Linked DNA regions of Homo sapiens: regions 2, 3 and 4 are each linked to region 1. The links come from fine-mapping of genetic effects on gene expression. A gene starts in region 1. Each other region holds a variant in brackets. All regions are shown on one strand. Distances are from middle to middle. Region 1 holds the start of LINS1 (lines homolog 1). Region 2 has its middle 24 kb from the start of CERS3. Region 3 overlaps CERS3 (ceramide synthase 3). Region 4 overlaps LINS1 (lines homolog 1).

Region 1 (8,231 bases):
ATACTCAAAGATTTGCAAAAATTAAATGGCTTATATGTGAAAACACCTGTATAACTCAAGTAGGAAGATGTCAATATGTCTTTATTTATTAACCTTGAAAGGTTCCTTCCAGCCTCTGGGCCTTGATACAATGCTTCTCCTTCCACCCACTTTCCCTTTTGTTTTAGGCTTAAATATGACTTTCTTTGGCAGGGGTAGGTCCTCCGGTGATACTGTCTTCCAGCTCTGGTGCCCTGTCTTACAGAATGTGTCACAATTATACTTTAACGATTTGTGCAATGATTTTTATGATTTAGAGTTGTCTGCTTGGTTCTTCCCTAGCTCCTAGCACAGCATTTGATACACAGTAGGTACTTATATTTGTGGAATACATTCCTGGCTGAAGATTAATTTAGTAGTGTATATGTAACAATCCTAAAATCAGTCCCAAAGTATATTTTAGTACCGTTTTGATCTCAAAAAACTTTAAAAACACCATGTAATATTTTAAGTTGTGAATTTTAAATTATAATAAAAATGTAGTATCAAAGAATTATAAACAGTAGTATCCATAGCAGGGATTAAGTTCTGAGCTCATTCAGTCTTTACCGTATGACACATCTGACAACGTACTTGACAGAAGCAACACACACTGAAGCACCATCTTAAAATGGCTGTGGTAGAATACCATAGAAGACCAAAATCCCTTAAATTACCAGGGCAAGAACTATAAGGAACTCAAAAGCCTCCAGTTAGCTTCCTTTCTTTCGGCGTTCTTTTTGCTGTGATGACCAAGGTCTGAAATACAATTTCTCTACCCAGCCCCATCGCCTTTTCTGCCAGGTACAGCTGAACTAAGTTGGGCTAACAAGGCAAATGATGGGCTCCAAACTGTGCTGCATCTGTCTTTATGGTGGCCCTCTTTATTACACCAAGATCCCCAGACACAACCTGCTGGCCCAGAACACTGCCTGCTGCCAACTAGAGCATAACCTGCTCATTCTCTCCACCACCAAGTGCTTTATGGGCCAGGACACAGCCTCCTGGGCAGTGGTCCTTGACCTTGGAATCTGACCTTGACACTGACATCACTGGAACATTAGGAAAAACCCATGAGCCTTGGACTCCCTAGAGACCAGCTAAATCAGAATTGCTGCAGTGGTGCTGGGGCATTTTTCCAATGACAAAGTCTCTTTCTACTCAAGAAATAAACTCAATTCTGATTGAGTCAGGGTTTCATGAATCAAGCTTCATGAATACTTATCCCAAATTATTTCACTTATATGTTGTAAGATGTTCCCATTTTTGTGAGTTTTATATTATTAACTAAGTTAATGGGAAATGAAGTGTATCTGTTAAAACCTAATCAATATTAACTTGTTATAAATATTCCGCAATCTAAACTGCTTTTACATCATTGAAAAGTTATAAAAATTAGCAAATCTGATAGCACCAATTCAATAAAGCAATTTAAAATTACCTAGTAGCACATTCTGTGAAACTTTGACAATATGATGTTACTTGGCTATGATATAATCATGTACTTCAATCATTTGAAAATGGTTGTTTAACTCAAAGGCAGGATTTTTAATGAAAAACAAATGGCCAGAAATACAAAGAACTAGGAATTAGGAGACAACTCTGTTTCTAGGCTCTTCACCAACAAGTTCTTAGGCCCCCATCTCTCTACTTAACTATCATTTAGCAAATACACCATATGAATTGCATGGGTGCCGAGTCTGCTATAAGAATGAATATGTTCTCCACAACAATTTACATATTTATTCATTTCTCTCTCCCTCTTTTTCCTTCTTTTTGGGAGTTCAAAACTTCTTGACTCTATAATTAGTAAATGTTATAAAACTGAACTTGTACATTATATTTGAACTGTTAAAAAGCAAAATTTGAGGCTGGGTGCAGTGGCTCACACCTGTAATCCCAGCACTCTGGGAGGCCGAGGCGGGTGGATCACCTGAGGTCAGAGGTTCGAGACCAGCCTGGCCAACGTGGTAAAACCCCATCTCCACTAAAAATACAAAAATTAGCTGGGTGTGGTGGAGTGTGTCTGTAGTCCCAGGTACTCAGGAGGCTGGGACAGGAGAACTGCTTGAACCTGGGAGGCGGAGGTTGCAGTGAGCCAAGCTCGCACCACTGTACTCCAGCCTGGGCGACAGAGGGAGACTCCATCTCAAAAACAAAAACAAACAAAATTTGAACAAATTTAAAGATGTAAATGGCTTTTATTAGCAATTTATGAATCTGGCAGCATCTCAACTAAAAATTTAGAAACGGTGTTCTGATTAGCTGAGCAGAGGTGGGCTGAAAACGGTTGAAGAAGCAAAAAGAGAATAAAAGACAGATTGGTCATTTCAAAGTTAAACTTTCCTCACAGAGACCAAATGGAGGAGAGACTTCTTTATCATGCTGGCTCAGGTAAATCAGGCCTCCTTGACTCCTTGCTGTGTATCTTCTGGATTTTTTGACAACTGGCCCATTTCTAAGTTGTTTGATTATGTGACACCTAGCACCAGCAACTCCATTCTGATTTGGCCTGGTCTGTTGGGCCTAGTGCAGGGGTTTAATCTAAAACAATGGCTTCCTATACATTTCATTTAACAATACTAATAAAATACCGCTTTTATTTTATTTGTTTACATTGGAGTCCTGCTGTTAAGCAAAAAAAAAAAAAAAAAAAACAGGGAGAAATCATGGTAGAATCGAAAGACCGAAAGCTACTAAAAATTGATAGCATTTAATAGTCCTGAATAAGTTGTTTCTAATTATAATTCAGCTACTAATTTCAAGAAGAAATGGAAATTTAGAAAGTTGAAATTATGAAATATGATTGCTGGGAAGTATAATGGGACAAAAATTAAAAAGCTGAATCTATCTTCACTGCCACTACTGCACTTCTACTCTGGACAACTGCAACCGATCCCTTCCAAAGTGGTTGTATCCAGGCCCACCCTACACCCACTTCCTTCTGAAAAACCAATCCACTTTCCTTAGGATACAGTCCAAACTCCTAAACAAGGCTTACCAAGGCCCTTCAAGATCTGACTCTCGGCGTCTTCTCATCTCTATGCCCCACTCCCCAGTCTCATTACCAGTCATTTTCCTACCACTCTGCTTCAGCTACCCTAGCCTTCTTTCTGGCAGTTCCTGTAAACAGCAAAGCATATTCTAGCATCAGAGGCTTTGCATTTCTAATTCTCTCTGCTGGCAAAATTCTCTCCCTAGATCTTGGCATGGCTGGCTCTTTGTCATTCAGATCCCTGCTCAAATGTCACTTCCTCAGAGACCTTTCCTATCTGTCTTAGTCCGTTTCCTGTTGCTTATAAAATAATTCCTAAAACTCGGTAATTTATAAAGAAAAGTAATTTATTGTCTAGTTTTGGAGGCTGGGAAGTCTAAGACTGACGGACCACGAGACAGCACCGCAAAGTATCACGTGGCCAGGGGGCTGAGCAGGCTCACGAGTTGTCAAGTCTCTCCTTAAAAAGCCACCAGTTCTACCTCCGTGATAACCCATTAATCCATGAATAGATCAATCCACTCGTGAAGACAGAACCCTCACGGTCCAACCACCTCTTAAAGACTCTACCTCTCAGTACTGCCACATTGGGGATTAAATTTCAACATGAGTTTTGAAGGGGACAGATATTCACACCATAGCACTACCTATCTAATACAGCCCATCACGTCCTGGTCAAAATCGATTCCACCATTCTGCTTGATTTTCCTCATATAACCCATCCCTATCTGATAATTTTGTGTTTGTTTCCCCGAAATCACTATCTTGTTCACTGTTGTCTCCCCAGGGACTAGAACAGTGGCCAGTAAACACTTGCTAATGAATAAAGTGCTTAACAAACGTGTCTTGATCAGTCTATCTCGCGTTTTCCCCACGACCCCTCTCCATTCATTCACAGGAACCCGCCAACGTTGCTATCCTTTCAGGAAGGTCCTTGGATCGTCATCGCTATCCCAAAGAGAGTCCGTTCTCCCACTTCAGGCGAGGCATTGCCAGCCTGGAAGCTAACGGGGTCTCAAGGACCGACAGCCGCGCCAAGACCGGGCACTTGCGTCTGACAAGCGCTGAACAGGGGCGGAGAAACAAGGCACCCCTCTACTCGCTTCCTGGAGCCTGCCGCCCTCCCAACCTTAAGCCCTGAACCAGGCTCTCATTTGGCCGCACTCGTGCCTCCCCTGCTGCCAGCACGGCGGCCGGTCCCGGTTACCTGCCTGGGATCTGGCTCAGGCGAACTCTCTTCACACCGCCATTTGAGGGAACACAAATGCCCGCTCTGGGCCACCGTAGTTCACAGAAAGTACAAGCTGGCACCTCCTCCCGCATGCGCAGAGACCGCCTTCGGCGAATAGTGTCTCTTAGCAACGGCTTTGAGTCCCTCCGCCAGGGGCGGAGCCTCGGAAGCCACCACGGGGAAGCTGTAAGGGGAAGTGAGTGAGACCAATCGGAGACGAATCTCTGCCCCGTTCGGCACGCCTCCCTTAACTGTCGCGAATGCAAAGGCAACTTTACGGCAGGCAGAGGGTGGGGGCTGCCGGGGGTAAGGAGGAGAGAAGGAAGCAACCAACCAACCAAGTCGTCCCTACTCCCTCCACCCCCACCCATCCCGGACCTGGTTTACGGCTCCAGGCTCAGGCTCCACTGCGGGCGCTGATTGGTTGTTGAAGGCTTGGTCCCATCCCAGTGACCCCAAAGTGCTGAAGGGAGGGGGCGGGGGTGGCCCAGTGCAAAGTGCATCCCGAAAGCCCCCTGTCCGGAGACCCCACGGCTGGCACTTCGGGCCCCGTATGACCTGGGACCTCGCCGTCCCGAGACCTCCTGGGTCCCTCCGTAGCTGGAAGCCTCCGGCCCGGAGCGCGGCAGCCCCCTGCTCCGAGCCCTGGACCGGGACTGCCCCCCCACCCGAGCCAGGACTTCCTCCCTGCCTCCCTGCACCTCTGCCCCAAGGCTGCCCGGCGGCCGGGATCGCCACCTCCTGCCTTCTCGGCTGTTCGGATGTTCGCCGGGCTGGGGCCGTGAGGCACCGAGGAGGATCAGGAACACCAGGGTCCGGCCCTGCCTGGGGTATTTCTTCAATGGAGAAGTTGGTGAGTGTAGAGGAGGCTGAAAGGAGGAAGAGAAGCAGCAGCTGAGGAGACAGGTAAAGTCCTTTACTTCCCCCGAGGGGAAGAGTGCTGGCTGGGAGGGTAGGAGGGAGGAAAATCTCTGCTTTTTCTTGCCTGCCCTTGCCACTCTCCAGCCCCTTTCCTGAGCTCCCCCCTCCCCACCTCTGAGACACTACACCACTCACTGGTTTCTGTTTTTCTAGGTTTGAGCTGGCTGAAGAAGACGCGAAAGCAGGAAGAGGTCTGCCCACCTATCAGAGAAGCAGAAGGCACAGTGCCTCTGACCAGCATCGTCTGTAAAGGTAATGAGCCAGCCCTCCCCTCCCCCGTTGTTTATTCCTGGCCCCTACCTCATTAAGCAGTGGTTTATTTTCAGGGTGGTTGCCTGGGAATGCAACCTTTCCTACCCCCCCCACCCCCACCCCCAGTTTCCCAGGAAAAACAAAAACATTACCCGTGCCTGATACTTAACATTTTATAACTTCTCTACCCAGGACAGTATTTTCCCACTTTCTTTCTGTACAGTGTGTTTCTGTGTTTTTCATTATCTTTTGGTACACTGTGCCATTTACTCTGCTCTGAGGCTTTGAGACCTTTTTGTAGCTACCCTCCCTTCCTTACTCTCATAGGAATTCCTCAATTCCTTGTTAATTGCTTGTTAATTCTGAATGACTTTCCTTTTTAATTAAACCACAATTTACTGTTTTCCCCCTTACTCTTTCCTATCACCTTTCTTCTACCTGCATCAGAAAAATCTTTTGAGTTATCTAACTGACAACGATTTGGTAGAGAAAGGTAAATTATTGGCCTGAGATTTATGAGTTTCAGAAAATAGTTTGATTTTATTTCCTACTAGAAAGCCAACCTGTGTACCTTAAGAGTGTGAATGGTATGAAGACAACATTATTACCCTGAAGCACTTAGGCATAATTAACTCTTTGGGCTTTCTGTGTGTTTGTGTGTGACAAATGTGGATGGGCTTTGAAACTTATAAAGATACAATGTTTCTTACACCTCAGATTTTCTAGGAGAACTTTTAAAAATTTGCACAATATCTTATTAATCGTTTGACTCAGGAATTTAAAAACAAAGGAACCTTTTGGTGTGTTTACATATCTGGGTCTTAATTTTAGCACTCTATAAAAAAGATTTCTCATTTTAAAACTTTTACGTAGAGTTTGCTGGATTGAAATTTAAGCATCTAATTCATGTGATCACATTTCTGCTGCCATATTTTGTTGCTGCTTCTGAAAATGCTCTGAAAGTAAACTTAGGACATTAGTGTAATTCCTAAAGGGGGGATATAAGCATGGAAATTATACAAGGTTTAATTCCAAAATTAGCCAAATGGATGACTTTTTTAACATCCAGTAGCAAAAGTATAAAGTGACTTGTTAATCTGAGTTATTTTAATATCCCAAATTGTTTAGGGAATTTTTGTTACAAGGAAGTGCTTAAAATAGCAGAAGTTAATATTTTTGATTTCCTATGTTCCACTGGACTTTCTGCCCTCCACAAAAAGAAATTAGTATCTTTACTGATTCTGTTAATTCTTAAGACATAGCTAAAGAGATAAAGACATAGCTTTTAAGGGGATCTGAGGTATGCATATTCTTGAGACATGGAACTGCATGCCAAAAGAAGAGATTCTAGGGAATAGGATTTAGAATCAGTATCTACCAATGACTGTTCCCTGTTGAAAACTTAGGGCAGCTTTTGTATGTATATGTAGGGAATCAGGAGTACTAGACTACATCATTTCAGTAAAAGCTACCCGGAAATCTTTAAAGGCTAATTTTTATTATGTAAGTATGGAAGTTGTCAGGGAGATGGCCTAATGATTACTTCAGAACTTTTAAAAAATGCTAAAATATTTGAAGTATGTTCTAAAGATCAAAATGAAGTACTGTGTTTTGTATTCAAGCCTCTCAGTTAAATATTTTTTCAGCTTTACATGTAACTCTAGGACGCTTTCATTTCTAAAGAGTAGTTTCACCTGAGATGGTAAAGGGAAGGAGTCTGTGGCTAGTCCAGCACATAAGGTAAGAGAGGATAAGTCTTTACTCTGGCTCTCAGCCAGTTCATTCTCATTGCTTAAATCGTATTTCATGGATCATCTCATTTTTTAATAGTTTTTCTAAGATTAGGGAATATGTGTAAATTGTCAACATCTGTCATGTTTCTAATATCAGAATGACTGAGAGTATTTGGTCTAGATTATACCAGGCATTTAGAATATTTAATTTGGGTATTTATTTACCAACATGGCTAGTTAGGTAGCTTACATTTTTTAACCTGGCAGTTAGCTTTGTATTAATTCTATTGCCAATCATGTGGCTTAAAAAAAATCCAATTTATTTCGTCACCAAATATAGATTTATAATCACGTAGGGAGAATAATTGATTTTAATTGAAGATATGCAATGATGCATCTTTAGTATACTGTGGCCAGTACTTACATTCTTTACACATAAAGTGATGTCATTTACAATTAGTTAATACTATGACACATACAGTATCTCTTTAATTTGTTCACGTTTAACTTTGGTGACATAGAGATACACACCATCCCTAAAAAGTCTAAAGCCAGATATGATTTATATGGGCATATCTGTTACCTGACTTTCAGCCTTCCACATCATAATCCCCTGAATGCCCTCCCTACGTAGGATGATTGTCTCCTTTCTTGCAAACTTTCTAGGAATTGACACATGAGGCTACAAAGATGGTGTTGGCAGACCTAGGTTAATAAGATAATATTGACAGGACCTCATCATTATAATACTTGTGATTTAAGCTTTGAGTTGGGTCTGGATAAGTCCAAAATTTCTTCTGTTGCTTCATCCACACTTCATGAAAATTATTGGTTTCTCTGCTGGAATTTATGTGGGTCATGGATAAGTTGTGCATGGTAATAAATCCTTATGTTATATGGAGGCCCAGTAATTTGGAGGAAATACTAATACCTTTATTTGTTTTGGATCATAACCACTATGCTATACTTTGTTGAGTGACACTAAAATAACACTTATACCTTATTTTGGGTTCCAGGCTCCTGATCATATCAGTAGAGCTTGTGAACAGGCATCTCAGCCATGTTCTCCGTTTTGGTACGG
Region 2 (8,231 bases), 49 kb before region 1:
GCCTCCATCAGCAACAGAGAAAAACAGTGCATAAGACTCCTCCAATGTGTGTAAAATGCATGCTAGGTAGGTTGAAGGAAAAACGAGAGGAACCCGGGCACCCCATTTCAAATCTCTACAACTGGAGAAATCAAAGGCTGCAAGGACTGTGTAGACCTGATGCAAAGTTAACTGGCTGCAAAAATACAACCCAAGCCAGTGCTGTCTTGCACCCTGTTCACTCAGTAGCTGGAGCAATGAATGATTGTGACATTCTGGTGTGATATTTGTGCAGCCTGAGGTACACCCTGGCTACAGAGTTGAGCCTTGGGGTCTTTAACAGTATTAAGCCATGGTTTCACAGTTACAGTGGTCCAAAGAACTAGAGGCCATGTAGGTCAAACACAGAAATGGCGAACACATCCCAAACCACTCAACTGTTTAGTTCCACTGGTGATTTTTTTTAACGGGTAGTGATTTCAAATGATTTGGTGGGTGGTTTTTTGTTTTGTTTTGTTTTTTCTTTTTCTTCAGAGCAAACAAATGATTTGGTCTTTAAGTATGGAGAGAAAAAAACAAAACGCTGAACGAGAAATTCACTAACAAGTGACTGTGCAGTTGTTTGAGGGCATGGAGAGGGAATGGGGTTGACAGCATTTTGAGGGGATGAAGTGCACGATCTTACCCCACTGCTGGGGGGTTTCTGATTCTTATTCTATCATGCTGACAGCAAATATAATTTGCCCATCGCTGGCTATAGATATGTTTAGGCTAAGCAGGATTTAGACTTCTGTTGGGAAGGAATTAGAAGAATTCAGTAGAGACAGTGTATACTATTTGGTTGTGACTTTATTTTCTTCCTGGTTTTATCAATGCCTATGAAAGCAGGCTGGTGGCTTTTCCCTTGAGAAAAACAAGACTTGCCCCACTATACTTCCTATTGTGGCATATCCATTTCCTAAAGATATTATCTTATAGTGTTCCAATTTAAGAAAATACTTCCAACTCATAAAATTACATGAAACAAAGTACATTTGTAATTTTTTTCTGATACAAATTTTGTGATTATCGTGATGAATTTTCCTCCACATTTAGCACAGTGATTGTTTCACGTGATCATCTATGCGGAAATTTTGGAATGCCCACCCAGATAAACTATTTTTATTTTTATTTTTTGAGATGGAGTCTTGCCCTGTCACCCAGGCTAGAGTGCAGAGGCACAATCCTGGCTCATTGCAGCCTCCGCCTCCCGAATCCAAGCGATTCTCCTGCCTCAGCCTCCTGAGCAGCTGGGGCCACAGGCACCCACCAGCATGCCTAATTTTTGTAGTTTTAGTAGAGATGGGGGTTTCGCCATGCGGGCCAGGCTGGTCTCGAACTCCCAACCGTGGGTGATCTGCCCACCTCGGCCTCCCAAAGTGCTGGGATCACAGGCGTGAGCCACCATGACGGGCCAGGTAAACTATTTTAAAATTATACATAGTGATTGTTCTATGTTTATAGCTCATTTTGATTAAATTAACCTCTACAGGACATTGGGCCATTTAAACTATGACCCCGCCATGGGGCAGTTACCAGGTAGCCTGTCTCACTTCAAATGTTGAAATGTGCATGATGGTCAAAAGTGGGTTTCACACCATCACACGTTCTTGGAAGTGCTTCTAATTTCTCATTTGTTCTGTATGGCTAGAGGCTGATTACAATGTCCGTAAAGAACAAGGTCATCAATGTGCTTTGCATATTTCATTTTCATGCATATCTGTTTGTTGCGGGAAGTCAGGGACCCCAAACGGAGGGACCGGCTGAAGCCATGGCAGAAGAACGTGGATTGTGAAGATTTCATGGACGTTTATTAGTTCCCCAAATTAATACTTTTGTAATTTCTTATGCCTGTCTTTACTGCAATCTCTAAACATAAATTGTAAAGATTTCATGGACACTTATCACTTCCCCAATCAATACTCTTGTGATTTCCTATGCCTGTCTTTAATCTCTTAATCCTGTCAGCTGACGAAGATGTATGTCACCTCAGGACCCTGTAATAATTGCATTAACTGCACAAATTGTACAGCATGTGTGTTTGAGCAGTATGAAATCTGGGTACCTTGAAAAAAGAACAGGATAACAGCAATTGTTCAGGGAATAAGAGAGATAGCCTTAAACTCTGACTGCCGGTGAGCCAGGCGGAACAGAGCCATATTTCTCTTCTTTCAAAAGCAAATGGGAGAAATATCGCTGAATTATTTTTCTCAGCAAGGAACATCCCTGAGAAAGAGAATGTGCGCCTGGGGGTGGGTCTCTGAACTGGCCCCCCTGGGCGTGGTCATCTCTTATGGTCAAGACTGCAGGGGTGAAATAGACCTCAGTCTCCCATAGCGCTCCCAGGCTTATTAGGAAGAGGAAATTCCCGCCTAATAAATTTTGGTCAGACCGGTTGATCTCAAAAACCCTGTCTCCTGATAAGATGTTATCAATGACAATGGTGCCCGAAACTTCATTAGCAATTTTAATTTCGCCTCGGTCCTGTGGTCCTGTGATCTCACCCTGCCTCCACTTGCCTTGTGATATTCTATTACCTTCTGAAGTACTTGATGTCTGTGACCCACACCTATTCGCACACTCCCTCCCCTTTTGAAAATCCCTAATAAAAACTTGCTGGTTTTTGTGGCTTGTGGGGCATCACGGAACCTACCGACATGTGATGTCTCCCCCGGACGCTCAGCTTTAAAATTTCTCTCTTTTGTACTCTGTCCCTTTATTTCTCAAGCTGGCCGATGCTTAAGGAAAACAGAAAAGAACCTACGTGAATATCGGGGCAGGTTCCCCAGTATCTGTTCACAATTAAGGCAAGGCATTTCAGGCTTTTCCTGATGCTAATTTTCATCTCAGTATGAAATCCTGGATTACAAAACAGGCAACCTAAAAATAGGCATTTTTTAGTACATGGACTTATGGGTCTATGTACTTTTTAAAGTGTGCTCAAGAATAGTGTTTCATTTATGGTTTTATTAATAATTTTTAAAGCAGAATTTTCAACAATATTATTACTATGATTTATTTTTATAGTCAGCAAACACGAGACTTCATGCTCTTCCTTCTAGCTGCACATCTCGGTGCACAGTGTAACCTTTTTTAAAAAAAAATATGGAATGCGGCATGAATCTGGATCTTCCTTGCACAGGGGGCCATGCTAATCTCCTCTGTGTCATTCTAATTTTAGTATACCTGCCGCTGAAGTCAGCACCAGTTTCACCTTTTCACATTCACGGTAAAAATTATGGGAAACTGCATGTGAAATGTTTAGAAAATGATGGCCCTCAACTGTTAATCCCAACAGGATGGTGACTGAGACACACAGGCTGAAAATACAGCTGTCTAAAACATTTCCACATTTCATCATCTGAACATCATTTTCCACTAAGTTATTAATTGTAAAGACTTTATTCTACTGAACCTACTAATTATTCTCACCTGCTGAGTTGACCACCACGTGAAGAAAAGGTCATTAATGAAAAAGGGTGGCTATGTTCTGTTTCTGCAGTTTCACTGTGTTTTAACATTTTTTTCCTTTTATAGAGATGGGGTCTTGCTATGCTGCCCAGGCTGGTCTCAAACTCCTAGGCTCAAGCAATCCTCCTGCCTTGGCTTCCCCAAATCCTAGGATTACAGGAGTGAGCCACTGCACCCAGCTTCATGGTCTTTTAAAGCCTTAAGGTGGATGTGTCTTCATTCCACCTTTCATTCCACCTTCAAAAGCACAAAGCCATTGCCTTTTTTTTTTTTTTAATTTAGACAGGGTCTCACTCTGTCACCCAGGCTGGAGTGCAGTGGTGTGATCTCGGATCACTGCGGCCTGGACCTCCCCGGGCTCAAGTGATCCTCTCATTTCAGCCTCCCGAGTAGCTGAGACTATAGGCAAGCGCCACCATGCCCGGCTAATTTTTTTGTATTTTGTAGAGAGATGACATCTCACCATGTTTCCCAGACTGGTCTCCAACTCCTGGGCTCAAGCAATCCACCCACCTCAGCCTCCTGAAGTGCTGGGACTACAGGAACAAGCCACTGCGCCCAGCTTAGATGAAATTTTTGAATGTGACACAGGTTTTTTAAATACAGTATATTCCTCCAACAACTTCAATGTCATTGTAGATTCTTGGAATAAATTCACTCCCATATCTTCTTCTCTTTGTTTCTTCTTTTAAAGTCTCAAGTTACCAGGTAGGAAGCACTAAAGATACTGAAGATGGACCTCCCCATGATGTTTTCTTCACCCAAACTAAAAAATGCATGTGAGATGATTTTTTTAAATCCATGCAACAGACCCTTCAGATGTTGTCCCCAAGAGAAGAGATTTTTGAAAAAACAAATTGAAAAATAAAAATTATAGGCTCTGTGAAGTATGAACATTTACATCATTGCACAATTTCTGTGGATCTGCCATAATGACTTCTATATATACACACAGGCGCGCGCAT[G/GCACACA]CACACACACACACACACACACACAATTTGTGGTTATAATTGAACAAGTCCAGTTCAAACTTATAAACTTAAGTCTATGAGAAAAACCAAGACATCACAGTAGGAACACAACACTAAAGGATAAGATAAAATCTACAAGCAAACAATTTTCAAAACCTTCCTACAGTGTGGAATTCCAGTTGCTTAAATAATGCCAGTTACATTAATTTCAACTGTGCTCTGATCTGTTTCTATACATACAGGCACAAAGACAGAAAAGTGGAAATGTCCTTATCACGTGAAGAAGACATTGCTACTGGTCTGCTCAGGAGCAGCTCTTTGTTGCAGGCAGATTCCAGCCTTCCTGCTTCTTCCAGATGTGAGCTCCTGTCCTCAGAAATTCTTGAAGATTTCTAAACCCTTCTGCGGCACGGTCGCGGCTGTGTCCCAGTCATTCTCGGGGTAAGTTCCGAAGTTGGAGGTGTCGCCTTCGCGGGCTATCTTGGGCACGATGGGAGGCTTCAGTTTTCTCTGAGGAACAGCTTCCCAGTCCACAGAGCGGAACCACCGATGGCGTTTCACATCATTCGCCCCGTTCTTCATATTTCCTAACCACCTTGTTCTGTCAACCACGAGCAGTTTCTTAATGAGATCTTTCACATGGAAATCCAAATGTCTGGGGAAATCTATCTTGTCTGCAAGAATTTTCTGATAAATGCCAAACATGTTGTCACACACACACACACACACACACACACACACACACACACACACAAATGGAGGAAATCCCGAGAGCATCTCGAATATCAGGATGCTGAGGGCCCACCAGTCCACAGCCCTTCCGTGACCCTCGCTCTGAATGACTTCGGGGGCCAGGTACTCGGGTATTCCGCAGAGGGTCCAAGTCCTGTCTACCAGCTTCTTGGCGAACCCAAAGTCCGTGAGCTTGATGTGTCCGTCCCTATCCAGCAGGATGTTCTCCGGCTTCAAGTCCCTGTAGATGATCTCCTTAGAGTGCAGGATGGCACAGATGATCTCTGCAGAGTAGAAGAGCCCCCGGTTGCGCAGGTAGCTGAAGAGCTCACAGCCCGGAACATACTCCATGAGCCTGCAGAGGAAGCGCTAGTCATGCCCCGTCCAGCACAGCCTGATGAGAAACGGGTGGATGATTCCTTCAGGACGCAGATGAGGGACGGGTGGATGATTCCTTCCGGACGCAGATGAGGGACGGGCGGATGACTTCCTTCCGGACGCAGATGAGGGACGGGTGGATGACTTCCTTCCGGACGCAGATGAGGGACGGGTGGATGACTTCCTTCCGGACGCAGATGAGGGACGGGCGGATGACTTCCTTCCGGACGCAGATGAGGGACGGGCGGATGACTTCCTTCGGGACGCAGATGAGGGACGGGCGGATGACTTCCTTCGGGACGCAGATGAGGGACGGGCGGATGATTCCTTCCGGACGCAGATGAGGAACGGGCGGATGATTCCTTCCAGACGCAGATGAGGGACGGGCGGATGACTTCCTTCGGGACGCCGATGAGGAACGGGTGGATGATTCCTTCAGGACGCAGATGAGGGACGGGTGGATGATTCCTTCAGGACGCAGATGAGGGACGGGCGGATGACTTCCTTCCAGACGCAGATGAGGGACGGGTGGATGATTCCTTCAGGACGCAGATGAGGGACGGGTGGATGATTCCTTCCAGACGCAGATGAGGGACGGGTGGATGACTTCCTTCAGGACGCAGATGAGGAACGGGTGGATGATTCCTTCAGGACGCAGATGAGGGACGGGCGGATGACTTCCTTCCAGACGCAGATGAGGAACGGGCGGATGACTTCCTTCAGGACGCAGATGAGGGACGGGCGGATGACTTCCTTCCAGACGCAGATGAGGGATGGGTGGATGATTCCTTCAGGACGCAGATGAGGGACGGGTGGATGATTCCTTCCGGACGCAGATGAGGAACGGGCGGATGACCTCCTTCCGGACGCAGATGAGGGACGGGTGGATGATTCCTTCAGGACGCAGATGAGGGACGGGTGGATGATTCCTTCCAGACGCAGATGAGGGACGGGCAGATGACTTCCTTCCGGACGCAGATGAGGGACGGGTGGATGATTCCTTCCAGACGCAGATGAGGAACGGGCGGATGACCTCCTTCCGGACGCAGATGAGGGACGGGCGGATGATTCCTTCAGGACGCAGATGAGGGACGGGCGGATGACTTCCTTCCAGACGCAGATGAGGGACGGGCGGATGACTTCCTTCGGGACGCCGATGAGGAACGGGTGGATGATTCCTTCAGGACGCAGATGAGGGACGGGCGGATGACCTCCTTCCGGACGCAGATGAGGGACGGGCGGATGACTTCCTTCCAGACGCAGATGAGGGACGGGCGGATGACTTCCTTCCAGACGCAGATGAGGGACGGGTGGATGATTCCTTCAGGACGCAGATGAGGGACGGGTGGATGACTTCCTTCCAGACGCAGATGAGGGACGGGTGGATGATTCCTTCCAGACGCAGATGAGGGACGGGCGGATGACTTCCTTCAGGACGCAGATGAGGGACGGGCGGATGACTTCCTTCCGGACGCAGATGAGGGACGGGCGGATGACTTCCTTCCAGACGCAGATGAGGGACGGGCGGATGACTTCCTTCGGGACGCCGATGAGGAACGGGTGGATGATTCCTTCAGGATGCCGATGAGGGACGGGCGGATGACTTCCTTCCAGACGCAGATGAGGGACGGGCGGATGACTTCCTTCGGGACGCCGATGAGGAACGGGTGGATGATTCCTTCAGGACGCAGATGAGGGACGGGCGGATGACTTCCTTCCAGACGCAGATGAGGGAGGGGTGGATGATTCCTTCAGGACGCAGATGAGGGACGGGCGGATGACTTCGTTCCAGACGCAGATGAGGGACGGGCGGATGATTCCTTCCGGACGCAGATGAGGGACGGGCGGATGACTTCCTTCCAGACGCAGATGAGGAACGGGCGGATGACTTCCTTCAGGACGCAGATGAGGGACGGGTGGATGACTTCCTTCCGGACGCAGATGAGGGACGGGTGGATGACTTCCTTCTGGACGCAGATGAGGGACGGGTGGATGATTCCTTCTGGACGCAGATGAGGAACGGGCGGATGACCTCCTTCCGGACGCAGATGAGGGAGGGGTGGATGATTCCTTCCGGACGCAGATGAGGGACGGGTGGATGATTCCTTCAGGACGCAGATGAGGGACGGGCGGATGACTTCCTTCCAGACGCAGATGAGGAACGGGCGGATGACTTCCTTCAGGACGCAGATGAGGGACGGGCGGATGACTTCCTTCCGGACGCAGATGAGGGACGGGTGGATGACTTCCTTCGGACGCAGATGAGGAACGGGCGGATGATTTCCTTCCAGACGCAGATGAGGAACGGGCGGATGACCTCCTTCAGGACGCAGATGAGGAACGGGCGGATGACCTCCTTCCGGACGCAGATGAGGGACGGGCGGATGACTTCCTTCGGACGCAGATGAGGGACGGGTGGATGATTCCTTCCAGACGCAGATGAGGAACGGGCGGATGACCTCCTTCCGGACGCAGATGAGGGACGGGTGGATGACTTCCTTCCGGACGCAGATGAGGGACGGGCGGATGACTTCCTTCCAGACGCAGATGAGGGACGGGTGGATGACTTCCTTCCAGACGCAGATGAGGGACGGGCGGATGATTCCTTCAGGACGCAGATGAGGGACGGGTGGATGACTTCCTTCCAGACGCAGATGAGGAACGGGC
Region 3 (4,000 bases), 130 kb before region 1:
ACATACTTCCTTCAGAGACCATTGAAAATTGATCTGCCAAACTTCCAATGGCTTGGTGAGGTTTTTCTCAACTTTCCAAACAATGAGAATCAGTCAACGTCAATACAGAAATATTTTTACCAGGAAAAGTTTTTGCTGTTGTTTTGAACTTTTTTTTTTTTTTTTGAGATGGAGTTTCACTCTTGTCACCCAGGCTGGAGTGCAATAGCAAAATCTTGGCTCACTGCAACCTCCACTTCCCAGTTTCAGGTGATTCTCCTGTCTCAGCCTCCCGAGTAGCTGGGATTACTGGCACTCGCCATCACACCCGGCTAATTTTTGTATTTTTAGTAGAGATGGGGTTTCACCATGTTGACCAGGCTGGTCTCGAACTCCTGACCTCAGGTGATCCTCCTGCCTTGGCCTCCCAAAGTGCTGGGATTACAGGCGTGAGCTACCGTGCCTGGCCTGTTTCGTTTTATTTTACAGTCAAGTCTGTTCATATTGGTTTATTTGCAACCCAACTCCTTGAAGACAGCAAATAGGAGTACTGGCTGCCCTCTCCAATGGGCAAGTGAATTCAGTATAAAGATCAAGAAAATGCCAAACACATGTAACTCAATTCTCCTTGAAAACCAGAAATGCTGGCATGAGAATGAGTTCTTAAATGTAGGGTTTTTAAAGACAACAGTGTGGGAAAATAGCGCACTACCCCGACAATCACTGAGCACCACTGTGTTGCTCAATTGTTTATGGGTAAGTAAGCTTGCTTGTTTATTTTGAGACATCATGGGATAGTCTGAGGTGAATGTTCTCCATTGCTAAATCAAAAGCCAACCATGGCAGCAATATTGCAGAAACTTCTCAGAGAGTTCCCTGGACCTAGAGCTTCCATGGTGTGTGCTTTTTAAAAACATCCGCAAATTCTTCGAAACTGCTCCCATCAAGAAATGGAGTCTAGTTTTCCTTCCCTTGAATATGAGTCAGATTTAGTGACCTGGTTCCAATAAAAAATACAAGGTTGGAAATGACGTGATGTGACTACTGAGGCTGTTTATGAAAAAAGATGCAGCATCTCTCTAGCACTCTCTTGAAATGCTCACCCTTGAAATGCAGGTGCCATGCGATGAGGAGGCCAAGGCCAACTAGAGGGGCTGTGGGTATTCCAGCGGACAGCCCCCAGCTGAAGTCCCAGCCAATAAGCACAAGCAGCATCAGCCAGCTGATTTTCTTATCTTCTTTCCTTCTTTCCTTCCTTCCTTCCTTCCTTCCTTCCTTCCTTCCTTCCTTCCTTCCTTCCTTCCTCCCTCCCTCCCTCCCTCCCTCCCTCTCTCCCTCTCTCCCTCTCTCCCTCTCTCTTTCTCTCTTTCTTTCTTTCTTTCTTGATGGAGTCTTTCTCTGTTGCCCAGGCTGGAGTGCAGTGGCACAATCTCGGCTCACTGCAACCTCCGTCTCCCAGGTTCAAGCACTTTTCCTGCCTCAGGCTCCCGAGTGGCTGGGATTATAGGCATGTGCCACCACACCCGGCTAATTTTTTTGTATTTTTAGTAGAGATGGGGTTTCACCATGTTGGGCAGGTTGGTCTCGAACTCCTGACTTCAGGTGATCCACCTGCCTCGGCCTCCCAAAGTACCGGGATATAGGCGTGAGCCACTGCACCTAGCCTGATTTTCTATATATGACTTCAGCCATGTGTTGAGGACTCTAGACACTATGTGACTGCCCAGCCGCCATATAACTGTAACCACACAAGAGACCCTAAGTGAAAATCATCTAGCCAAGGCCAATCGACTCCTAGAACCATGAGAAATAATAATAATAATAATTAATAAATGTTGTTGTCTTAAGACAGAGGTCTGCAAACTATGGCCTGTGGGTAAAATCCGGCCTGCAACCTGGGTGTATGTTTTCGTACAGCCCATGAGCTAAGTAAGTATGGCTTGGTACATTTTTAAAGGATTATAAAACAAAATAAAATGAATAAAAACTTGCAAAAAAGATCATAGGTGGCCCTCAAAGCCTAAAATATATATTCTCTGGCCTTTTAAAGAAAAAGTTTGCCCACTGCTGTCTTAAGCCACTAGACTTTTAGATGCTGTGTTATACAGCAACAGGCAATTGGAACGTGTAGTGCCTTTGGGACATGGCGAACTGAGGGGCAAATGCTGGATTGATAGTGTCATGAAAGTCACACTGAAAAGCTATGCCCAACTGTCATCAGCAAGTCAATATTATTCTATCAATAATTGCTATCATTCTCTCTCTCTCTCTCTCTCTCTCTATATATATATACACACATATATATGTATATATATATACGTCTATATATATGTGTATATATATACGTGTATATATATA[T/TAG]ATATAGATAGATAGATAGATAGATAGATAGATATAGATATAGATATAGATATATTTAAAGACAGGGTCTCACTATGTTGCCCAGGCTGATCTAGAACTCCTGGGCTTAAGTGACCCCCCCGCCAACCTCAGGCTCCTGAGTAGCTGGGACTATAGGCATGCACCACCATGCCCAGCCATTACTAAAATTTCACAAACACACTTGCTCAGTCAAAGTAAAAGTGATGGTAATGATTTATCAACCAAGGAAAATATCTGAGACATTTATCTTAGATTTGATTCTAGTTGAACTTCAAATTCTGAGATACTCATTAATATGTTTAATTATAGTAGGTAGTATTTACTGATTCTTTACTGAGTACCAGACATTGTTCCAAACTATATAAACTAGTTAAGCCTCATGCCAACCCTTATTTCCATTTTACATATGAGAAAACTGAGGCACAGAGAGGTGGTATAACCTGTTCAAGATCACAAAGGTCGTAAGTGTGGAGTCAGGATTTAAATCCAGGATGGACTCTCACATGTAGCAACTTAACCACTACACTCTGTTGTTCCTCTCCAGAAAATGCCGAATACACATGGTCTAAAGAATGCAGCTGGCTTCCAGGAAAGGGCATTGACCTCTCTGGCTGGATTTCCCTGGATGCCAGCCAAGGGTGCTGTCTATACACTTAAGAATGAGGCCTGGAACTTGAGTCTCCATCCATTTCCCCTGCATCTAGGCTCTTCAACAGCACTAAGTCTTCTGTTTGGAGGATCCCAAGTTCCCAGACTAGCCCCAAATTATGGTTGGTTAAAAGCTGTTCCTTCCAAACCATCTAAGTCTTCCCCACATGTTACTCTGGTTTCTGTCAATCAACACATGGAACATTATGCTTCCCAAGGAAATGATTGTCATGGGAGATGTAATATATGCTTTTCATTGCTGGTCTGTGGCTAAACAAAATCAACAGACTGATCGAGAGCCAATCATATCGAAAGGATACTCAAACCATAATTAGAACCAGTGGTCATAGAGAATGAAATAAACAAGTATCAGTTTTCCTTATCTGGGAAGTGGAAGTGATAATACTCATCCTTATGAGTTATTGTGTAGACTAGAGCCAAGATATGGGAAGGACCTAATCCAGTGTCTGGCATTCAAGTAATGGCTATAATTATTGTAACACAGAACATACCTCTCTTTTAGAGAACTGGTGATTGGACAGTGACTTTTCATTGAGTGACTAGAAAAGCTGTTAATCACAAAGAAAGGTCTACATCCATGAAACAAGACAGAGTAAGAGCTGCTGCTTGCCCGTCAGGTCACACATTTTCCATCTCCCGTTGTAATAAGCCTTTTCCACACCACAGAGTGTTGTTTTAATTATTTATAAAAATGGCTCCATCACATTCTTTTCTCCAACTGCACTTGACACAAATAACTGGAGACCCACGTATGGAAAGGGCAATGCCCTGAGGGTAACCATGCACTGAGGCCACCTCTGCACACTGACCAAAGGCAGGGCACATCACCGGTCTACTCACCAGAAAGGAAAAACAATGAGGCGGCTGATGAAAAATATGGTGGAGAAGATGAAAAACAGGGTGTTACAGGTCTGCGTCCATCCAGCATAAGAAAACATCTTAGCAGACTGCAAAAAAGAAAGAAACTGCAGAT
Region 4 (6,115 bases), 31 kb before region 1:
ATCAAGGACACATGAAAGTGGCCATATCTGGGATTAGGGTCTTTGCAGCTGTCATCAAGTTGAGATCATACTGGATGAGGGTAGGTCCTAGTCCAATGACCGATGTCCTTGTAGGAGGGAAACTGGACACAGACACAGGAAAATGCCATGTGAGGCAGGAACTGGAGTGACGCCACTACAAGACAAGGGACACCATGGCTGGCTGGCTGCCACCAGAAGCCAGAAAGGGGCAGGGTGGGATTCTTCTCCAGACCCTGAGGGCATTGCCCTGCTGAAGCCTGAGTTTGGATTCTGGCCTCCAAAACTATGAGGATAATTCCAGGTGTCTGAAGCTGCGGCACACGTGGCAAGTTGTTACGGCAGCCCTAGCTGAGGAACGCAATCACCACCCCCGATTTTGTGTCACTTAGAACTGCCATAAATCTCCAGTGGTATATAGCTATAATGAGTGACTTGTCACTTGATGTCTCTTTTTCAGTCACTAGGTTGCTTCCAATAAGGCAAAAAGTAAGAACTTGTCTAGAAAACCCAGCCGGGCACAGTGGCTCATGCCTGTAATCCCAGCACTTCGGGAGGGCGGACAGGCGGATCACTTGAGGTCAGGAGTTTGAGACCAGCCTGGCAACATGGTGAAACCCCCGTCTCTACTAAAAATACAAAAATTAGCTGGGCGTGGTGGCGGGCACCTGTAATTCCAGCTACTCGGGAGACTGAGGCAGGAGAATTGCTTGAACCCAGGAGGTGGAGGTTGCAGTGAGTCGAGTCACGCCACTGCACTCCGGCCTGAGCGACAGAATGAGATTCTGTCTCAAAAAAAAAAAAAAAAAAGAAAACCCTTTTATGGTGATGATTTTATACTATTACCTCATTGAGACATAATTTATATTAAGGAAAAACAATACCTGGAAAATAAAATGTCAATGTTTTACAAAGTGTTCATAGTTTTATTACTTATCACCTCTATGTATTTTAACAACTTCAAAAGTGCAGTTGGATTATATGGGAAAAGATTTTTCTTTTGCAAACGGCAGATGGCATCTTGTAGTTCCTGGAAGCATTTTACTATTCTGTAAAATATTCCCACTTCAGAGACGACATCATTTGGGGCTACTTCACAATCAAAGGAGAAGGCAGTATCAAATTCTTTCAGAACCAGAGGCCTTGATGGAGGCTCAAGGCTAAATTCTTTTTTATCCCTGCTTGTCCCAGCTGCATCCTGAATCTCCTTAGTTGCTTGCTGGTGTAAAGATGTCTGTTTACTGTTAGCTAAACACTGCTCTGTGGATTCCACGTCAGAATCGTCAGAGCTGTCGTAATCTACCAGACTTTGAGAGGCCCGGGGGGAAGACAGACTAGAAGCACACATGGTGTGAGCCCCCTTGGACATCACAGCTTTCAGTGGTTCAGAGGGAGCATCGGAAGCCCAGGAGTGCCGAGCACACACATCTCTGTGACTATGAGGAGCAGTCAAACGATGGGGTATTGTTTGGTTGGAGCTTTGGTCTTGGACAAGTGAGGGGACACAGCCACAAATACTTATGTCATATTTAGATTCAGTTGCATCAAAGTTATTGCAAATGGTGAAAAAATTATCCCAGTCCTTTTGCAGTAATTTTAAATATCTAACAAAATATTCAAGAAAACAGGTTTCTGATGAAATCAAAAAGTCAAGAAGAACTGTGGAATCAAATCCTATATTTTTCAAGAAGAACAAGAAAATACAGTGAGGATTATAGCCATTTTCATGTGTGTGATGGTCCCACATTTCTTTTCCCTGAGTCAAGCTTTCAGTGGCTTCACATCCTCTGAAAATGAAGATAATGGAGAATGCAGATTAATGACCTTACAAAAATAAACAGTTTTACCAGATATAATTCACATACCATAAATTAACCTATTAGATTACTTTTAAATCTATGCATCACTTCTTAAAAGAAAAAATTTCAAAACCCATTCCCTTCCCCATAAGCTCTAAAGAAATCTGACTCAGTAAAGCAAAATCCACTGACTTTGGCAGTTCTAGTTTTTGTCTGCCCAATAAAAGTTACCTGTTGTTCTTTCTCTCGACATCAGAACTCCTCATTCTTATAGGTAACCAATTCCATGTGGTAAGATAATTCCTAAACCTCCTTCCTTACCCTCAACAAGGGTGGGCATGTGACCCAGATTGACCAATCAGAGCACTCCATGCTCCTGGCCACAATGACTGGTTCTGACAAGGCTCTGTGACCCAAGTGGGTTAATCAGGTCTCCCCTGGGACTTTTGCTGGAGCTATGGAAGATTATAACTGTAAGGCTGAGGTACGCCTTGAACTGCCGGTGGCCATGCCTTGAGAATGAATTCAAAACTGTGAGACAGAGAAAAATTGAGAAGTGATTGATGACATGATTGATTATAGTCCCTGTACATATAGTTATACCTGACTCCAACTTGACCCTTTAGAATTCCCAGTTATGAGCCAATAAATGCTGGCTTTTGCTCAAATTAGAGTTGGTTTCTATCATTTACAACCAAAAAAATCTTAACAAATACAACTACATCTGAAAAAAACTATCTATGTTGTAAGCACATGCCTCTCTGGACACACTGAACTGGATTCAGAAAGTGAGAAATTCACACACAAAGTCAGTTTCATTCAGGGGTTTCCACTTCCTGAGGAGTAAGGAGCTAACTTTGAGTACAATTAAGATACACTCTTACAGGCGTGTGCATTTTCAGACTGAACTTGTATTTGACCATTTTGAACCTAATTCAAATCACATGCAGGAATTTTGTGTTCTTGATTAGGACCTTTTGAAAATTGGCCCCAAACACTCAAGAGTCTAAGAGCAGCCATTGCCAGCAGTGTCATAATACAAGTAAGTACTGGCGGCACAACGCTGCACCACAGATCATTAGCAAGAAATCCCTTTCTCCCAGGCCAAGAAAGAAATGGAAATAAAGCAAATATGTGAGGGTTTTAATAAAGCAGAAGCAGAAACAGTGGAAAAGGTCATCGGTTATTAGCTTCATAACCAATTATAGATATTTGCCACAAGAAGATATTAACCCAAGTACAGCTATTTTAATAAAGCAGAGACAATCAGTATAAATCATCAGTAACATAACTTAACCAATTTCAGACATTTGCCTCAAGAAGGTATCAGCCCAAATTCGACTGAAACGAAAATTCAGAACAGCTTCTTTGATTATTTCTAAGTTTGTATTCACCTTTACAAAGGCAAAGATCATCTTACTGAAGCTTAATACAAAAAAGTAAGTCTTAGGGGTGAAAAGAGGTCTTAAATGAACAACAATTAAGATTCAGAGAAGTGTACTGACTTACTGGAGACCAAATCAGAAGCCATGTTTTCAGATACCAATCTAGTTATACTACCTGAGAACTGCCCAGCCAGCCAGGTTTTCCTAGCGATACAAATGCAATCTCCTTTTCATGTAAGTCAGGGTTAAAGAAAGGAACTGCAACAGGATGTTTTCCCCCAAATGATGAAAGTAAGCAACACGCCCAGCACATTCTCAGAAATGTTTTCTGCTTTCCTGACTTGTAGGCCGTTCAATAATTACTTTAAAATACACTAACCTGGTCAGTGTTAAGTAGATGCCCAGTGATGCCTTGGCAGCCTCCAGCATGTCATCGTCTTGTTCTATGAAAACCCGAGACAGCCATTTGCACGGATTGTGTAATTGCAGAGAGGGCTGAAGATGAGGCTTTAAGAAGGTCAGTAACTCAGACATGAACCTCTGTAAGTCAACTTCAAAAAATGAAAATTTCAAAGTGTAGGCAATAGTTTATGAATGAATGAATATCTTGCCTATATATAAATTCATAGTGTCTAAAGTACCTTAAGATGCAATTATCCTAATTCACTTTCAAAAAGTCATCAGGAATCAGTTAGGAAGCATCTTTATTTGGCAAATGAGGACACTGAGGCTCAGGGAAAAAAAGTGACTCATTCCAGAGCATACATTTAAAATGTACAGCTACATCATCTATTTGCAACAACTGCCTAACAACTGTCTCTTAGAAATAAAAGTTATGTGATTTCTTGCTAAAAGCAGATAAATAAATGAGCAGACAACTAAGATCACTTCATCGGATGCCAGAGCTGTCTGTCCAAGAATGCAACCAAGCAAAAATAATTTTGTCTTCAAAATAACAGAAAAACATATTTTTTGTTTGTTTAAAGCATAGAAGTACTACTATTAAGCACAAAAATAAAAAACGTTTTAGGTAGTTTGAACTACAATTTAAAACTGAATTATATAACAGGTGCCATCTAGTGTTATAAATTAAAACTGCACAGAATTATAACTAATGTGTAGTTATTAAAAGCTAAATTATATCCAAAGCAATTCAGTGATGTCATTGCTCACAATTCAAACTTTTCACTGAATCTGTATGCTGCCTGTTTAGAGACATTTACTATTCATTTTTCTCAAGTAAAATGGAAGACTTTGAACTCCTGAGTTACTATTCTGGAAATTATATATGTAACAATTTCTTTGTCAATATAACTTCTCATATATTAGCTTTAATTCAATATCTAATTTTCAATAATCTACATTAGT[G/A]GAAACACTAATTGTATGAAGGATTAATACAAATGGGGTGGGGAAACAGAGACGAGAGGATCACTTCAGCTCAAAACGTTGAGGCTGCAGTGAGCCTGGGAGACAGAGCAAGACCCTGCCTCAAAATAAATAAACAGTAAACACAACAATAACAAAGAAATAACAACAAACAATAATAACAATAAACACATAAGTGGGAGTGAACATATTTTTCTTTAATCTCTCTGTCTTCTCCTCTCTCTCTCTCTCTCTCCCTGAAAGGATCTCCATCTGTTGCACCAGGACTGGAGTGCAGGTGTGCGATGGGTCGCGGCTCACTGTAGCCTTGATCTCCCAGGCTAGGACCTCCCAGGTTGGGACAGGAGGAATAGCATGGGCCGAAGGGGGGTCAGGGCTGCAGTGGGCCATGGTCACGCACCTGCAGTTTAGATTAAAAAAAAAAAAAGGATTAATATAAATAAAATGCTGTAAATACTTGAATATGAATTGATTTCCATCACTTACTTTGAGATGACTCAACAGCAACTTTTTTAAACCTAAATCATTCCTTATGCTTTACAAATTCATTGTAGGCACAAAAAGCTGACATGTTTCTTAAAGGTAAATCCAGTTCTTTTTTTTTTTTTTGAAAATGTAATAAGTTACAAATAGGATAACATACAGCTTAAATTACTGGAATTTAAACTAGTCCTGAGATTTGATAATTATGAATTACTGTACTTAAGTAAATAATTACACACTGCATACAAAAGGAGTTTGGAGAATTACCTTTCACTTCACTTGCTGAAGAATAATTTTGAAACTTGATTTCTAAGGATTTCATTATAACTAAGCTTGCTGCTCTAAGGATCACATGATCTGGACTAGTGATAAGTTCACATTCAGGTTGAACTTCATCACCTCCAAAAAAGGAATGTTTTTCATAAACAGACAGTGTCTTCAACAACCCCGAATTCACAGCTTGCAAAACAGCATTAGCTAAAGCCAGCATGTCCACCGCTACATGATGGTCTGGCGGCATTAAGGCAGGCACAGATCCACGACAGAGGTCTTCACCCACTTTACAGAGAAGGCACTTTTTGAGGAATATGATGACCTTCCTTTTAACAAAAGCCTGAATAGGCCAGGTAATAACTTCTAGCATGCAAGATGGTTTCAAAAATAAAATCCTCTGGCAAGTGAAATGTAACTTCAGGTGGATTCTGGAGGCGATGAGAAGCTCAAGCAAATCCAGGAAACACATCAGGATGTTTACTATTTTAGAAGTATCCCGGCAGTTTTCAAAATGCTGAGAGAATAAGGAATTGTAAAACACTTCAAAAATGGTGTCGAAATGAGTCAGGAACTGCTTTAGAATTTCTGCAATTATAAAAATAGGAATTATAAACAGGAAAAACAGTCTTCTTCAAACAATTTTACAATTCACTTTTTATAAATATCACTTTTTAAGATGAAAAAACAGATTTGGAATGTTTACCTCTAACATTAACAAATGAGGTTACACAGATTAATGGGTAAGAACCACGGTTAAAATTCATTTTATGG

Evidence for each region. PIP is the estimated chance that this variant, and not a neighbour inherited with it, causes the effect.
Region 2: its variant is the best candidate, but not a certain one, in a credible set for the expression of LINS1 in CD4 T cells (CEDAR, PIP 0.73).
Region 3: its variant is the best candidate, but not a certain one, in a credible set for the expression of LINS1 in prefrontal cortex (CommonMind, PIP 0.85).
Region 4: its variant is the best candidate, but not a certain one, in a credible set for the expression of LINS1 in whole blood (INTERVAL, PIP 0.86).

Annotation. Positions count from the first base shown.
Region 1 is chr15:100,597,897-100,606,127 of GRCh38, forward strand. It overlaps LINS1 (lines homolog 1), which reads right to left and starts at 4,288. Exons shown (of 7, transcript NM_001040616.3): 1 at 4,225-4,288. ASB7 (ankyrin repeat and SOCS box containing 7) reads left to right here and starts at 4,693. Exons shown (of 6, transcript NM_198243.3): 1 at 4,693-5,150; 2 at 5,319-5,417. RefSeq lists an enhancer at 4,206-4,545 and silencers at 4,716-4,975, 5,426-5,475.
Region 2 is chr15:100,548,703-100,556,933 of GRCh38, forward strand. It overlaps the pseudogene PRKXP1 and the pseudogene RNU6-322P. Among named protein-coding and RNA genes, the nearest start is that of CERS3, 24 kb to the left of the region's middle. The variant G/GCACACA (reference allele first, on the strand shown) is at 4,455.
Region 3 is chr15:100,465,511-100,469,510 of GRCh38, forward strand. It overlaps CERS3 (ceramide synthase 3), which reads right to left. Exons shown (of 12, transcript NM_001378789.1): 10 at 3,868-3,974. Among named protein-coding and RNA genes, the nearest start is that of CERS3, 61 kb to the right of the region's middle. The variant T/TAG (reference allele first, on the strand shown) is at 2,338.
Region 4 is chr15:100,568,313-100,574,427 of GRCh38, forward strand. It overlaps LINS1 (lines homolog 1), which reads right to left. Exons shown (of 7, transcript NM_001040616.3): 5 at 5,339-5,929; 6 at 3,582-3,753; 7 at 1-1,805. The coding sequence ends at 926. Among named protein-coding and RNA genes, the nearest start is that of LINS1, 31 kb to the right of the region's middle. The variant G/A (reference allele first, on the strand shown) is at 4,571.